Linked DNA regions of Homo sapiens: region 2 is linked to region 1. The links come from fine-mapping of genetic effects on gene expression. Tissue or cell type: spleen. Region 1 holds a variant in brackets; the other region holds the start of a gene. All regions are shown on one strand. Distances are between the middles of the regions.

What was found. PIP is the estimated chance that this variant, and not a neighbour inherited with it, causes the effect.
Region 2: C11orf21 starts here. The variant in region 1 is fine-mapped to the expression of C11orf21 in spleen (GTEx, PIP 0.91).

Annotation. Positions count from the first base shown.
Region 1 is chr11:2,337,103-2,345,201 of GRCh38, reverse strand. The region is part of intron 1 of CD81-AS1 (CD81 antisense RNA 1); the gene reads left to right. LOC124902611 (a long non-coding RNA gene) reads right to left here. Exons shown (of 2, transcript XR_007062551.1): 2 at 3,108-3,283. Among named protein-coding and RNA genes, the nearest start is that of CD81, 36 kb to the left of the region's middle. RefSeq lists enhancers at 4,914-5,829, 5,830-6,747. The variant T/C (reference allele first, on the strand shown) is at 3,567.
Region 2 is chr11:2,297,194-2,305,292 of GRCh38, reverse strand. C11orf21 (chromosome 11 open reading frame 21) reads left to right here and starts at 3,375. Exons shown (of 4, transcript NM_001329958.2): 1 at 3,375-3,537; 2 at 4,680-4,773; 3 at 5,586-5,865; 4 at 7,372-8,099. The coding sequence starts at 3,485. The coding sequence ends at 5,837. TSPAN32 (tetraspanin 32) reads right to left here and starts at 3,280. Exons shown (of 10, transcript NM_139022.3): 1 at 3,078-3,280; 2 at 2,335-2,449; 3 at 1,089-1,186. The coding sequence starts at 3,143. RefSeq lists a silencer at 5,740-6,034.

The sequences.
Region 1 (8,099 bases):
CAGATTCAAATGCTAAGCATATCCAGAAACACCTTGCAGACACACCCAGAATAATGTTTAACCAAACATCTGGGCACCATGGCCCAGTGAAGTGGACGCATAAAATTTCCCATCACAAGTTGACAGTAGTCTGTTAGCATTCTCTGGAAAATGGGGGAGATGATGGGAATCGCCTCACCTGCAACCTTCAAGTCTTCCAAAGGGGCCCACATCTCTGCCATTCCCCACCAATGAGATTTTCTTTTTGGTGTATTGCCTTGGCTAAGGTGGTGGGCAGTTTCAGAAGTTTCTACTTGGTAACACTATGATAGTTTTTACCCTACAGGACAATGAGCCTACGTGAGGATTCTGCCAACTACCAAGATTGTCTGAGTGTACTTTTAGGGTCTGGGGGAATATGCAGCATTCTGGGAATGCAAAGGGATGACTCAGTGTGAGCTAGAGGTGGACCAGGATTGCACTTTGCTGGCCTCCATACGCCCTACTCTAGTGGGCCCATGATGGTACCTTGACTCCAGCTCTCAGTGTCAACTTGGTCCCGGAGTCCCCCAGCCCTGGGCATTGCCCTTTTCCTAGTGCACAGTTACTGAAATACACCTTTAGTGGTGGGGTGGGGAAGGACTGGGGGAGCCTGCTATGGTACTGCAGGGTCCGTCCTCCTGGGACCTAATCCCTCCTTCAATCAGTGGGGTTTGGGTTTGAAAACTGTCTCAGGTGCAGAAACTGGGCAAGAGATCATGCTTTTTCATTGGGGTATGTATTCATCTATTAGGGTTGCAAAACAATATCACAGACTGGGCAGCTTAAACACAGACTTTCATCATCTCATGGTTCTGGAGACTGGAAGTCCGAGATCAAGGTGTTGGTAGTGCTGGTTCCTCCCGAGGCCTCACTCCTTGATTTGCAGATGGCCACCTTCTCCCTGTGTCCTCATGTGGTCATGCCTCTGCATGTGTCCTCATCTCCTCTTCTTACAAGGACACCAGTCAGATTGGATTAGGGCCCACCCTAATGTCTTCATTTTAATTTAACTACATCTTTAAAGGCCCTTTCTCCAAATACTTACACACTGAGGTCCTGGGGGGTTAAGACTTCAGTATATAAATTTTGAGGGGACACAACTCAGCCATAATAGGATGGCTGTTCTCAGCCTCCTGAACAACCATCCTGATGTCTTTTGATCATGTAGATTAAGCAATACCTTGCTGGCTGCGCACCTGCCTTGCCCAAGGAATGCCATGTTTTGGTGATGGTCTCACTAGTTCTGCCAGTCAAGGCCCCTGGCTCTTTGATGGCATTGCTGCTTCCTGTGTGTATTAGCTCATCCTCACACTGTTATAAAGATACTACCGGAGACTGGGCAATTTATAAACAAAGGAGGTTTAATTGACTCACAGTCCCACATGGCTGGGGAGGCCTCAGGAAACTTACAGTCATGGCAGAAAAGGAAGCAGGCACCTTCTTCACAAGGTGGCAGGAGAGAGTGTCAGCCAGTGTAGGAGGAACTGTCTGGCCGTGTAAGACGTGTCTGCTTCCCCTTCACCTTCCACCATGACTGAAACTTTCCTGAGGCCTCCCCAGAAGCAGCTATGAACCGTGAGCCAATTAAACCTCCTTTCTTTATAAGTTACCCACTCTCAGGTATTTCTTTATAGCTGTGCAATAACAGACTAATACACCCAGGCACAGTGGTATGCATCTGTAGTCCCAGCTACTTGGGAGATTGAGGTGGGAGGATTCCTTGAGCCCAGGAGTTTGAGGCTGCAGTGAGCCATGATTGCACCACTGCACTCCAGCCTGGGTGACAGAGACTGACCCTGTCTCAAAAAAACAAAAAACATAAAACAAAGGTAATCAACAGTAAATGAGTTCATGACAGTGGGTCCTAATCTCATAGGACTGGAGTCTTACAAGAGGAGGTGAGGACACGGACACGCACTGAGGGAAGACCCTGTGAGGACACAGAGAGAAGGCCCCGGTCATCTACAAGCCAAGAGAGGCCTCAGGAGGAGCTAGCCTTGCAAAACCTTGATCTTGGACTCCAGCCGCCAGGATTGTGAGACAATGAGTCTGTTGTATAAGCCACCCTGTCTGCGGTGCTTTGTGATGGCAGCCCCAGTAGACAAATGTACTTAGGGTTGGCTCTTTTGCCCTGAAGCTTCTAAGCACCACTCAAGTGATGATTTGGCACTGTCTCCCTGGAACCTTAGGAGAGGGTTAAGTCCTGTGCTATAAGACAATGCTCTGATATTGACACACTCTTCCTTCTCTAACTTTCTATTTCACCATGATCCTGCACACTCAGGAGCTGACTCCTAGGTACTCCCAGTTCCTGACTAGTTCCTGCAGCTTCCATGCCCAGTCCTCTTTATATCTTCCCCAGCTCTGAACTTCTGGCAGCTTGCTGACTGAGCATCTCCACTGTGAAGGGAGAGAGTCCGTGGAATCCCACCCCGTTCCAAGGACAGAAGCTGTCTGTGACAGTTCATTTGGTCTGTCGACTTGACTGGGCCATGGGTTGTCCAGATATTTGGTCAAGCAGTATCCTGGGTGTGTCTGTGAGGATGAGATGAGCATTTGATCAGTGGACTGAGTGAAGCAGCTTGGCCCACACAGTGTGTGTGGGCCTGTTAGAAATACCAAAATTGTTAGAAATAGATAATCGGTGCTGCGAAGAAGAGTCAGCACAGAGACAAAAGATCTCTCAGCAAGGCCATCTTTACTTTCTGCAGAAAGGGTGCTCAACTGCAGATGGAACAATGGTGAGAGCACACCTGAACAAAGGAAAAGCAGATGTATTTATCCCTTACGCATTTGGGTTGTCCTTACTGCTGTGTCCTGCATCCATTGGCTGGAGTGGGACCTCACTATCTTAAACTGATACCCGATTTGAAACTTTCCTAAATAGGTAAGTGCAAGGAAGAACAAAGAAGTTGCTTACAAAAGGTTTCAGGAAGCAATAACATTTCCAATTAAGGAAGGGGCATAGGCTGTGAGCTGGAATGTGTCTGTGAGCATGTCCAACAGTTACATAGGATAGGGCTTAACAAAGAGCTATTAGCACAAAGCAAGGAGGCTTGAAGAAAATTAGTCTTTAAAAGAATCTATTATTTCTAAGACTTATGATTTATTCTTTAACAAGAAGGGGAACTTTGAAGCAGAAACTTTTTACTTCCTACAATTCCCTCCTCTTTTACTGTATAGTTTTCCTCTTCAAACTTTCTTAGCATGTCTTGGCTTAGTTGTTTTGATGAACTCCTGGATGTATGGTACGACATAACACCTACGAAGAAAGAGTATACTTATTAGCGTTGTTAAAGAGGTAAGAATTGAGGCTACATTTTTTTTTCTTTTTCTGGTTGATGAAATGCCAGAGTAAAAGGGATAGCCAACTGAACTACAGCATCAGTACTGCTCTCATTATTTGGCAGAGTGTCCAGTAAAGGTCCTCCATAATACCACCATACATCCGCTCAGGGATGAATAAGGGCAGACCGATGGGTCAGCTTTTGGAGGTGCCTGACTTTACTGCAACCTTTTAAGTCTCCAAGGAATGCCAAGTTTTT[T/C]CCCCTCGTTGTTGGAGACACGAGGTAAAATTGGTTTTGGAAGATGAAGGCTGGATGGCCCTCGGGGGCTGACCCACAGGGCACTGAACTTCAGGAAATAGCAGAGAAAGAGCTTGGCACAATTCGTTATTCCAGGTGGTGGAATCTTCGAAAAGAGCTACCACGCACTCCATGTCCGCTTGATTTGAGGACCGTCCCAGTGGAAAGGAGGCATCCTGAGCCTCTGGCCTACCGCGCCCACAAGCTTAATGGTCACTTTTGCTTAAAGTGCGAACGGGATATTTAATCCGTTTTAACCGGCATTTATGTCTTTATACCCTCTTTCAATGGCTAGGGTTTGCCTTGGGTCTCCTATTTCTACTTCTAAGAACTTGCTTGTGTCATTTGGCATGAGGCGAGGCATAGTTTGATGTTGTAGGTTTGGGAAAGGGGCAGTCGTAGGAGGTGGAGGAGGGAGAACAAAGCGCACCTTGAAGCCTATAGGATCCCTTCCAGTGACCTCTGCTCCCAAACCACAGAAACTCTCTAAAGTGGGGTTAGAGTTGCTAGTGGTAGGAATAGTCATGGATATAGGCACTGGGTTAGGAAAGGAAAGGAAAGAGATAGACTCAGCTTTCCTTAGCTTTAATTTGGTAGGGCTTGATCCAGAAACAATGGCCCATGATTCTGTTGATAATGGTGCTTGCTTGACTCTGGTGGGACGTGTCCACCCCCTTTCCGTTGTACGAATAGCAATCTCGGTAGTCAGCAGCACAAGGCAGGGTCCTTCCCAGGCTGGCTCCAGTTTCCCTTCTTTCCACCCTTTGATGAGAACGGGATCCCCAGGCTGGTGCTGATGTACTGGAAACTCTCAGGGCAGGGCCTGTGCTAGAAGACCTTTTGTTTTAAGGGTGGAGGATAAACCAAGTATATCATTTCTAAAAATTGATCTTTTGTTTTAAAGGTGGGGACATCAGCAGTGGATTTTATAGTCCTTAGTGCCTTCTTGCTGAGAAATTTCCTTTAGTACCTATTTTTATTAGTTTTTAGACCAAAGAAAGCCAAACACCATTTTATATTTGACAGTGCTTCCTGTGTGATTTTATACCAGATCAGCTAAATTTCACCTTTACATTAGTGTGTTATTCGTGTTAAACTTCATTTTAATAAAACCTTGTAGACATATGTATCCAATTTTAAGGTCTGACCACAAGGTGAGATTTCCAGACTCTTTTTTTAAACTTTTATAATTTTTAACCTTTCGTAATTTTTGTTAAAGAGCAGGTTAGCGCTTTAAGAAAAACCCACTGGGCTTTTATTTTAATGTCCAGTTCACAGAAAAACTGGAAGATACCCCTTTAACTTTAGCCAATATGTTTCCTTTACAATGAATATTTCAAAACTTGCTTAAACCTTCGAAACAATTTTTTTTCTCTCAAAGATGATAACCATTCTTTTCCAAAGCGAACTTCCTTTATGTCTGTGGACTAGACAGCCTAAGGTCACAACATTAGAAGTTAGGATAATACATGTTATACTGTTAACTTTTAGCAAACTTTACTTTTGTTGAAAACCTTGTAAGTTTGGGATTTCAATTATCCTTTGCTATTAATAAGACCTTGTTTAGTCCAAATTTAACTTAGAATTGGTACAAATGATGTTTGAAATGCTTGCTCCCCGGTGCCATAAAGAAATGGCACTTGAACATAAATTTAATTTCCTACGCAAGGTCATTTTTATACTTTCTGTAGAAAGGGTACACTCGGCAGCAGTTTTGCCACGAGAGTACACTGAGCAAAGGAGACAGGGTCATTTATAACCTGACGCGTCCACCCTACTGCTGTGTCTGGTTTCCATTGGCTGGAACGGGACCTCACATTCTGTTTCACGCGCGTCCGTGTGAAGAGACCACCAAACAGGCTTTGTGTGAGCAACGCGGCTGTTTATTTCACCTGGGTGCAGGCGGGCTGAGTCCGAAAAGACAGTCAGCGAAGGGAGATAAGGGTGGGGCCGTTTTATAGGATTTGGGTAGATAAAGGAAAATTACAGTCAAAGTGGAGTTGTTCTCTGGCGAGCAGAGTGGGGGGTCGCAAGGTGCTCAGTGGGGGAGATTTTTGAGCCAGGATGAGCCAGGAGAAGGGATTTCACAAGGTAATGTCATCACTTAAGGCAAGGACCGGCCATTTACACTTCTTTTGTGGTGGAATGTCATCAGGTAAGGTGGGGCAGGGCATATTCACTTCTTTTGTGATTCTTCAGTTACTTCAGGCCATCTGGGCGTATATACGTGCAAGTCACAGGGGATGCGATGGCTTAGCTTGGGCTCAGAGGCCTGACATTCTGCATTTGTCCCGACTGGCTAGCAACTTAGAACTTTTTAAAAGAGGCAAAGGCAGAGGAGAACAAAGGAAGAAGTAACTCGTGGAATGCTGAGAAAGGTAAAAACACCTTCAAACTGTCAGGCCTCTGGGCCCAAGCTAAACCATCATATCCCCTGTGACCTGCACGTATACATCCAGATGGCCCGAAGCAACCAAAGATCCACAAAAGAAGTGAAAATAGCCTTAACTGATGACATTCCACCATTGTGATCTGTTTCTGCCCCACCCTAACTGATCAATGTACTCTGTAATCTCCCCAACCCTTAAGAAGGTTCGTTGTAATTCTCCCCACCCTTGAGAATGTACTCTGCGAGATCCACCCCCTGCTGGCAAAACATTGCTCCTAACCCAACCGCCTACCCCAAAACCTGTAGGAACTAATGATAATCCACCACCCTTTGCTGACTCTCTTTTCGGACTCAGCCCGCCTGCACCCAGGTGAAATACACAGCCTTGTTGCTCACACAAAGCCTGTTTGGTGGTCTTTTCACACGGACATGTGAGACACAAACAAGGAAGAGGAACAGGATAGGACCTAATGCTTGCCTGGACCAGTATAAGCATGCCAGAGCAAACATTTAGACTAAATTGTGGGAGCTAAGGACATAAAGTACATTGATTTCTTTATTACGTCTAGCAGATATTTAAGAATGTTAGCGCTGGTCTTTGAATACATTTTGCTACTAAGAGAAGTTACTATTTATTCCTGATTAGATGGGGAGGAAAGTCTTTTGAGGAGGAAACTCTACTTCACTTTTCACAATGACTCCTTCCTGATTCTGTCAGTATCTTAAGGCTTGGCTCAGTGCAAACAACTCCCCAACTCCTAGGCAATTTTCCTAACTCTACTCCTATTTCCCCATTACTTAATGAATACCCATTGTGGCTTTTTCCCTCATTCACCTGGGAGGAACCATCTATTGTCCTGTCTTGAAGGGAGTTCCTTCTAGGTCTGGTTGGACCTTTGTATGGTAATTCATTAAGAGTTAGATCCCCTGTTAGCAAACCTGCTGGGTTAAGGGAATGATCAGTGGTTAATGTTAAATCATCTTTTTCTGACAGAATCGCTTCATATTTTAAATTTTTTGAGTTAGTAAGCTACCTTTTTGCTTTTCTTTTTTTTTTTTTTTTTTTGACTTAGGATAGTTCTGACCTGGTGAGGTGTGCTCACAATGAGGTTTCTTCTCAAAGTTATTTTTCTACTTTCTTCTGTCAGCAAAGAAGTTGCTGCTACAGATTGAATGCATTTGGACCATCCGCGGGTTACTGGGTTAAGGATTTTTGATTAGGAAGGCTATGGGTTGTCAGTGGCCTCAGTGTTTTTGGGCTACGCCGTTGTTTACACCACCAACAAGGTGGAATGGCTGCTTAAGGAGAGTAAAGCTAGGACAGGGGCAGTTACTAATAGATGTTTTAACCTTCCCACCTGTTGGATTTCTGGTAATTGCCACATGAGGGGGTTTGGTCTGTCTCGTGTGAGCTTTTTGTGTAAGAGTTTTGTTTTTAGGGCATGAGTCTACCCATAGACGACGGTATCCATACAACTAATCCCAAAATTTTCTAAGCTCTTATTTAGTCTCCAGCAGAGGCAAGAATGTGATGCCTTCAATCCATTCAAGCTCAATTTTCTGTTTACCTTTGCTAATTAAATGACTTATTTGAATATTTGACCAAATAAATTTGGAGACTCCGTAAACCCTTGGGGTAAGACCGTCTATTGGTATTACCATTTTCCACCGGAGTGAGGGTCTTCTCACTCAAAGGCATATAGGTCCTGGCTGTCCTCTGCAAATGGACAAGCCCAGAAGGCATCTTTTACATCTATTACTGTAACAACAGGGTGGGTAGTTTGGACTAACTGGTTAATAGCTCTAGGGTCTTGCAGTCACTGGTGTGACTCGTCTTGCTTCTTTACAGGCAGTATTGGAGTGTTCTAGGGTCACAGAGAAGATCTTCAATGATCAATTATAGGTTTTAAATTTACCCTGGCTTTTAAAGGAATAGGGTACACTGTTTTCTCTTTACTACTTCTCTTTCTCTCTCTCTGACTCTCTCTCTCTTACTCTCTGTCTCTCTTTTTCTCTCTCTAACTCCCTCTTTGTCTCTGTCTCTCTCTTTCTCTCTCTCTGACTCTCTGTCTCTCTCTTTCTCTCTCTTTGACTCCCTCTTTGTC
Region 2 (8,099 bases), 40 kb after region 1:
CCTGCCCATGCTCGTGTGCCCCGGAGCAGGAATCCTGGCTAGTGCTGGAGCTGCTGGGTCCTCCTCTGCCCACCATGGGCCCACCCAGGGCTGGTTGGCCCGGCAGCAGCTCCAGGAGGTGACTCTATTCCTATTCTTGGAGACATTTATAAACCAGGGTCATTAAACAAGCATTTGCTGAACTTGAAGGCTGAGCTGAAAACCCTGCCAGCCCTGGGGACCCAGGAGGCTCTGCCCTCAGGGACCCCCAGAGTGGTCCAGCTTCACAGGCTAAACAGGGAAGCAAAGCCCCCAGCACAAGCTCCTCATGGCTGGAAAGGGGAGACGGGAGGCTAGAGGGACAGGTGGGAGCCCGGGGCGCCAGGGAGGAGCTGCCCCAGCTGGGGTGAGAGAAGAGGGCTGTGGGCCTAGCAGGGGCAGGACAGGCGTGGGGAGGCTGCCGCCAGGTGGGGTCTGCGATGACCATCGAGTGGCAGGGACCAAGACAGAAGCCCATGGGGAGGAGTAGGAATGAGGGTGACAAGAGGCCACTGCTATGGGGTGGGGTGGAGGGGCCTATGGGACCTCGGGGCTGGGGAGACACCTCCGGCAGCTGGGAAGGAGAGTGTGCAGCTCCGGAGAGCCCAGGCTGGAGAGCTCAAGGGGCGTTTCCTGAGCCTGGCCCGGCCTCCTCCGAACAGGAAATGGGATGCTCCCAGTGCCCTCCCAGAGCTTGCTGGGCAATAGAACCAGACCCTCCCAGGGACTTTGGAAACAGCTCCCAGGGTCAGGAGGGCCGTCTCTCTCTTTCAGAGCTCCTATAGGAACCCTTGTTGGGCGTGTAGATGACAGGGTGAGGTAGGGCCTGGTGGAGGGGCCTTGGCTACCCAGGTAGGGGGTCTCGGCTGGCTAGCATCCCTGGGGCCTCTGTTTCTGCCTAGATACTCAGGTGTGGGGTTGACGTGGGGGTCTCGGCTGGCCAGCATCCCTGGGGCCTCTGGTTCTGCCTGGTCACTCAGGTGTGGGGGTGGCACACAGCCCTGCCAGCTCTTCACTCCTTTCTAATTCTTTTCTGGGGGCCTGGGCATCTGGGAACACAATGAACTCACCCCTGCCATGAGGCCCTGGGCCTCCCTCACGGTGGCTGCAGCGCTCAGCACGGCTCCCAGAGTCAGGAGGCCCACCAGGCTCAACCCCGCAGAGAAGGCTGGTTGGGAGGAGAGAGGAGGAGGGTTAGGGGTGCCCAGGACAGGTCCTGAGTGCACACAGCCTGGGTGTGAAATCTAACTTGGGAGTCAGGGGCCGTGAGGGACTCCTGGGGGGCTCTGAATGGGCCTGTCTCTCCATCAGACGGCCCTGAGGGAAGGAGGAGGGAGGTGGGACTCGTTCAGCCTGGGGGACTGCCCCTCCTTCCCTCTTTTCCTCCCTGCCCTCCATGCCTGTGGGGCTATCTTGGAAGCCACATGCTCCCTGCCATGCCCTAGTGACAAGTGGCCGGACTGGAGCTGTAATCTTATCAGTCTGGACCTGGACCTGGGCCCCAGGCATCCTCCTGCCATGTCCTAGTGACAAGTGGCCGGACTGGAGCTGTAATCTTATCAGTCCGGACCTGGACCTGGGCCCCAGGCGTCCTCCTCCAGGGAGGCCCTGGTCCTAGGACTTGGGGAAAAGCATTGGGTTCTAAGGCAGTATCCCTGACCTCCTGGGCCTCAGTTTCCCTACATCTGCCCACCGGGCTGCAGCCTTCCTGGGCCCCCTGAGCTCCTGCCTGAGAGTCCCCTGCAGATCTGGCTCTGACATCCCCTCATTAAAGGGGCCTTCCTCAGCCTTACCCCTGAGTGGCCCCAGCAGGCTCTGGCCCTCGCTCCCGCTCTCTGGATGTTGGATAAGTCGCTGCTGAGTCCCTGCAGGGAGGCGTCTGGCTAGAGCAGCCCCCACCCCCTCCCCACCCACATCCCAGGTCCTGAGTGGAACATCAGCCATGTGGAGCCCTCATGGACCTGCTGTGCCCAGCCCCAGGCCAGTCCCAGGCCTGCCTGGGACTGAGCCCTGACTGCACAGAGCCAGGTCCTGACCGCACAGAGCCACTTCCTGACCCTGCCCGACATATACCCACACTGTGCCCACGCTCCTGTGGGGCACGAGAACCAGGCAGGAACACTGGCTGTCACCCAGACCCGAGGCCCTGCCCAGGGGAGCTAGGACTCCAGGGCAGCCCCTCCCTGCCCCTGACCACCTCTGGCTCCTGCCTAGGGCCTGGCACCATTCTGGCTGTGAGGCGTCCAGCTGGGCTCGTGCCAGCCACCCTTGCACCCGAGGCCCCTCCCGATGCAGCCAGGCCTGGACCTCACTTACCCCATTGGTGCACAGCCTGGTACGGGTTCTTCTCCAGGGACGCTCGGCGGATGACAGCAAAGTGGGCCCCGAAGTAGGTAAGAGTCACCATGGTGGCCACAGAGAGGCCCAGCAGCTGTGGATAGGGCAGACTCAGAGTGTGGGGCATGGGACTGCTGCAGGAGCAGGGAGCTCGGCCCCAGCGGGCAGGGTTGGGGCTCTCTCCAGCTTCCCGGTCCCGTGAGAGACAGGCTCAGCTGCAGGGATTCCCGGTGTTTCCGTGGAGTGGTCTCAGGAGGCCTTCACTGCAGACGCCCCAGCACACTCACAGGCACCCCCACATGGTAGACGCATACACGCACAGCCCAGCTTCCCCAGACACCCAGGACCTCTGATCATTGTGTCTACGGAGTGGGAGTGAGCCCCACCCCTGTGCCAGCACCCTCCGGGGCAGGAAGGGGAGAAGATCCCTGGAGCCCGGCAGCCAGTGCCCCTCCACCCCAGCTCGCCCCAGGCCTCAGCCCCACTCAGGCCTCCTCCAGGCTCTGTGCTGCCCCTCAGGAGGAGAGACGGGGTTGCTCATGGTGGTCCCTGCCTGCCTGCGGCTGTCTGCAAGGGCAGGACACATGTCTGCAAGGGCAGGACAGGGACAGTAGGGCTGGTGTGTGTGTCAGGGGAGGGATAATCCCTGTGCTGAGGCCCTGCCACCCCTCACCCCTGCTCACCCCCACCCACCACCCACTCCTGCCCGACCTGCCTGTTACCAAGATAAAGAAGCAGGTGACCAGCATCTGGCATTTGGCAACCCTGACTCGACTCCAAGGCCCCATGACGGTTCCTCTCCTCTCCTCTCCTCCCCTCCCTTCCCCTCCCTGTGGTTTCCAGCTGGGCAGGGGCCTCAGACCGCAGCTCACTGCCCAGGAGGTAGGCTGCATCCGCCCCTCTGTCTGTCTGTCAACATCGCCCTAGGACCGAGCTGCTGGGTGCCCCGGAAGAAGGGCAGGCAGGAAGGGGAGGGGCAGTGAGGTTGGCTCCCCCCACCACCTCACCCTGGTGCCCCCAGCCCAGCCCAAGACACCAGGGCATTTGCTGACATCTGAGGCCCTTCCCAGGAAGACATGGCCTCGTTCTTGGTGTGGCCACTGAGGACGGCGCTGAGAGGGGGAAAGTCATGGGCAGGACCTGGTGTGGGATGTGGAGGAGACGGCGCCCGGGGAGGAGGAGGTGAGCTCCCCGTCCTGGGAGTGAGCAAGTGTGGACTGGGCCTTGGGGGCGTAATCCTTGGAGGAATTTGGATGGGGTCTCCTTGGAACATCATTATTGAGGTGTTCTTAGGAAACACCCTTTGAAATGTCCTGTGACAGCTTAAGTTTTGAGAAGGTCGTTGGTTTTAATGCCTTCGTGGGCGGCACTCATGGATATTTTGTCGCAGAGCCTTCTTGGGGCCACAGGGGTGGGCTGGGGCCTCGCTCACACTCACGTGGGGCCTCCAGGGGGAGGCTTTGTAAACCTCGAATTTGCAATTACACCGAGCCGTGTAATTACGTATGGGTGGGGGCAGCGCTGCGGCCCCAGTACAGGCAGGGTTTCCGTGGGCCTCTGGGGCAGGGTGGGCCTGAAGAGGGTGAAAATGTTCCAGGTGAATCCATCATTCAGGGACCACTCCGGGCCCTCCCAGGAGTGCTAACAGGCGGCTCTGCTCGCCCCTCGGTGCTGGAATTGCTCCTCCTGCATTTGGTCAGGACCTCATCAAGGGGGAGGGGGCCCCAAGACCTGCAGGCATGGCAACCCCAGCGTGGCTGTGGGAAGAGGGCCCAGCTGCCGCCCGCTCAGGAACGCTGCTGGAGGAACTGCTGAGGCCACCGCCTCCCTCCCTCTGCGGAGGGAGAACCAGGAGAACCAGGAGGGACAACCAGGACCCCCGTCCAGCCCAGCACCCCCAGGCAGCACCCTCTGCAGCTCTGGCCCCCAGGAATTCCCACCCTGAGTCTGTGGGGGCTTGTGGAGACCTCAGATGCCTGGCACCCACAGTGTCACTTCAGCTGGGGGCCTAGGTGTGGCTCAGACTGGGGCGCAGGTATGAATGTAGGGGTGGCAACAAGAGTGAAGGTACCAGGTCTAGGGGCAGGAGGCCCCCGGGCTGTGCAAGTGGGCAGCCCGTCCTCTCCAGGGAAGATGAGCTGCTCTTGGCTATGTCTGGTTCGCCCCTAGAATTGTCTCTCTCCAACCTTGACCTCCCTGGAGCTGGTGAGGCGGGCCTGGAGCACCACCCGCTTCTGGGACACCTCTTCATCAGGTCTGAAGAATTTCGGAGCAGGGCGGGCCTGGGTTCTTGACCTGTCCTGATGGCCTCCTTCTCACACCAGCGCTGTGCCCAGGTGGCCTCACTTGTCATCTCAAAGTGGCGTCGAACCCCCTGACAGGTGGACGGGAACCCCCGGCTGGCCCTCCAGAGACCAGGTCTGACCACAGCCCCCCTCACTGTGCCCCACCAGCGGGGGCAGGGAGCCGGTGGAACCCCCACGCCCTTTGCTGAGCCACACCCTCCCACCCCAACATTCCCTCTGCAAGAGGAAGTGGCTTGTTGAGGGGAAGCCACTGTGCAGGCTGCTGCCCACCCCACACCCTCCTGCCCACCCCGCACACCCCTGCCCACCCCGCACACCGCTGCCCACCCCACACATCCCTGCCCACCCCACACACCCCTACCCAACCTTACACACCCCTGCCCACCCCACACACCCCTGCCCACCCTCACACACCCCTGCCCACCCCACACGCCCCTGCCCAACCTCACACACCCCTGCCCACCCCACATGCCCCTGCCCACCCCACACACCCCTGCCCACCCCACACACCCCTGCCCACCCTCACAAACCCCTGCCCACCCCACACACCCCTGCCCACCTGCTCTAGAGGTGGTGCCGGCCGCTGGGAGCCTGGAAGACCCCTCGAGCAGCGGGTTCAGCCCCAAGGAGCTGGCCCAGGAGGACAGCTGCCCCCACCCCTACCCCACCAAGGAGCCTGTCCTAAGGGCTGGGCCCCACTGCAAGCTGGCCTAAGGGCCCCTGGCTTTATTTCCAGGGAAGAGATTGGGCGTGGATGCATGTGCAGGCATGGATGCGTGTGCAGGCGTGGATGCGTGTGCAGACGTGGATGTGTGTGCATGCATATGTGTTTACCCGCCAGGGACTTCCTTTTTCCTCTCTCCTTCCTGTGAATTCCTGGGTCCCAGGTGCGCCCGCTCACTCTACAATGTCCTTACCCACCAGGAGGCCCCTGGCTCAATGATGCCACCTGCAGCTGCCCAACCCTCCGCCCATGGTGCCCTTGTTCCACCTGCCACCGCTCATGAACCTGTGGATCACCCAGCTCTGCACTGGCTTGCCTGCTGCTGCTGTCTCAGTTTACCTGGGCAGTTGCCCCTGGCTATCCGGCTGGGATGGGACTTGGACTTAGAAGCAGGCCCCTCCTCTGGAAAGCTGTGTCCTCGGGCCAGGAGGTGGCAGCCTCTACCTTCCTGAGACAGGGACCCTTTTCTGTCCATCAGAGGTGAGCAGCCGGGCTCTGAGGCTGGAGCCTGGGGGCCCCTGTGCTGTCTGTGAGCGCGGCCCCTCCCACCGGGGAGGCACTCAAGAGCTTCCCACCTGCGTCACAGCGAGTGGGGCCTGGAGCTTGAAGAGACCTGTGGGGGCCACGCGGGCACCTGAATCTGGCTCATGTCTGTCCTTTGCCCTGATTCTGAAATCCACGTCCCAGGAGCTGCCTTTGCAGCCTCTCCTGAGCCCAGGGAGGAGGAGGGCAGCTCCCCTTCTGGATTACCCTAGGCCTGGGTCAGCTGGGTGGGCCCCAGGGGACCTTTGAACCCCTACTGCCTGGGCAGCCCCCTTCCCCTGGAGGCACCCTGGCCTGTCCCTTGAGAGCCAAGACCATACTCAAACTGGGTTCTGGGCTCTGGGCACTGCTCTGCTCCCAACCAAGGGAGTTTCTGGGGCATGGCTGCCCGGGCCTTCCCTCTCAGTGCCGTGGGCTGCTGCCTCCGCTGGCCAACTCCAGTGGGCACTGAGGGGCACCCTGCTTCCCCCCCCAAGGAGCCTAGGCTCTGCCCTCAGTGAGGGCAGAGGGGACCCAGGGATGGCTGCCCCTTCATAGACACAGCTGTCTCCCAGGGGAGTCTAAAGGGACCCCACACCTGCGTCACAGATACCAGGGACAGACTGTAGGGGAGGCGTCTCTATCCACATCCACGCTGTGCCACCCACTAGTATGTGGGGCCGGGCACCACCAAGCCTGCTGTCCTGCCTGGGCCACCCCAGCCTGGGCTGAGACTCGGCACCCCGTGGGGGTGGAGGAGTGGGGCAGAGGCAGGAGATGCCTGGGGTAAGAGCCAGATGCCTTCAGAGTGACCCCCCGGGCCTGGGCAGGACTGGGGGCAGGGGAAGGTCCCGCTGGCAGAAAAATGCACATCGGACCCTCCCCCTAATGGTCCCCACACTCCCTGTGCAGACAAGGCAGGCTGCAGGGCAGAAGCTTCCTGCCCCATTCCTGGTGGTCAGCGTGCTTTATTTAGCCCTTGATGAAGAGACTGTTTCATGACCAGCTGGGGCAGTGAGCTCCTGACACCTTTAAAGGTGCAGTGTTGCCTCTCTCAGGAACCTAGAAGTGAACGCCCATCCCCTTTCAGGCCAGACCCCGATGCTCAAGCGTCAGGGCCCAGGCCCATTGCCAGGCTGCCCTCTCTCTGGGACAGGTGCAGGGACCCTTGGGAGGGGCACAAGGTTGCAGAGGATCTTTGAGCAGCATGAGGAATATGGTGAGAGAAGGCTTTAGGAGGCGGGTTCAGTGTCAGTGTTCGCTATGGACAGAATCGTGTTCCTGCAAAATTCATAGGTTGAAGCCCTGCCCCGCAATGAGATAGTGTTAGGAAGTGGATCTCTGGGAGGTAATTAGGGACAGATGAGGACATGAAGGTCCCTGGTCCCATAGGATTAGTGCCCTTATACCAAGAGACATTTAGGAGCTCCCTCTTCTCTCTCTCTCTCCTTACATGCACTGAAGGACAGCTGTATGAAGACACAGAGAGAAGGCAGCCATCTGTAAGCCAGGAAGAGAGCCCTCACCAAGACTGGAATCAGCAGCACCTTGATATTGGACTTCCAGCCTCCAGAACTGCAAGAAATAAGCACCTGCTGTTTACATGCCCAGCCTGCAGTGCTTCCTTATGGCAGATTGGAGCTAACTGAGACAGCTCCCAGCACTCATTCATTCATTCATTCATTCACTCACCTCATGTCTACTAAACAGCTCTGGGCTGGCTCTGGGAAGCAGTGAGTCACACACACTGCCCCCAGCAACGTGTGAAATATGTTTAGAGACAGTGGGCTACAGCGGAAAGGGTAGATGCCCTGAGAACCCCAGCGGTGCTGGTCAGAAGCACAGGCCTTGTTGGGCTGAGGCTGGCATGGGGTGAACCTGGGGAGCCTCGGGGGCAGAGGTGATAGATGTGGGGTGTTTCAAGGCAGTGAGACAAAGAAGGGAGATGGGTGGTGCCCCCCAATGCCAGGCTTCACCAGCCTCCCAACACACGAGTGTTCACCCGCCTGGATGAGACACCTCTGTGGACTTGGGAGTGAAGGCAGTGAATTTGGGCAATGCTGGAGGCCGTGCAGGTGGGAGGTGGGACAGGGGCAAGAGGCCGGGGCCCAGGCAGGAGCTGACAGCCCACCAGTGGTGCTCCCCTGAGAAGCAACCTCAGTGGGTGGCTTGGGGTCTGCTGGGCTGTCCCC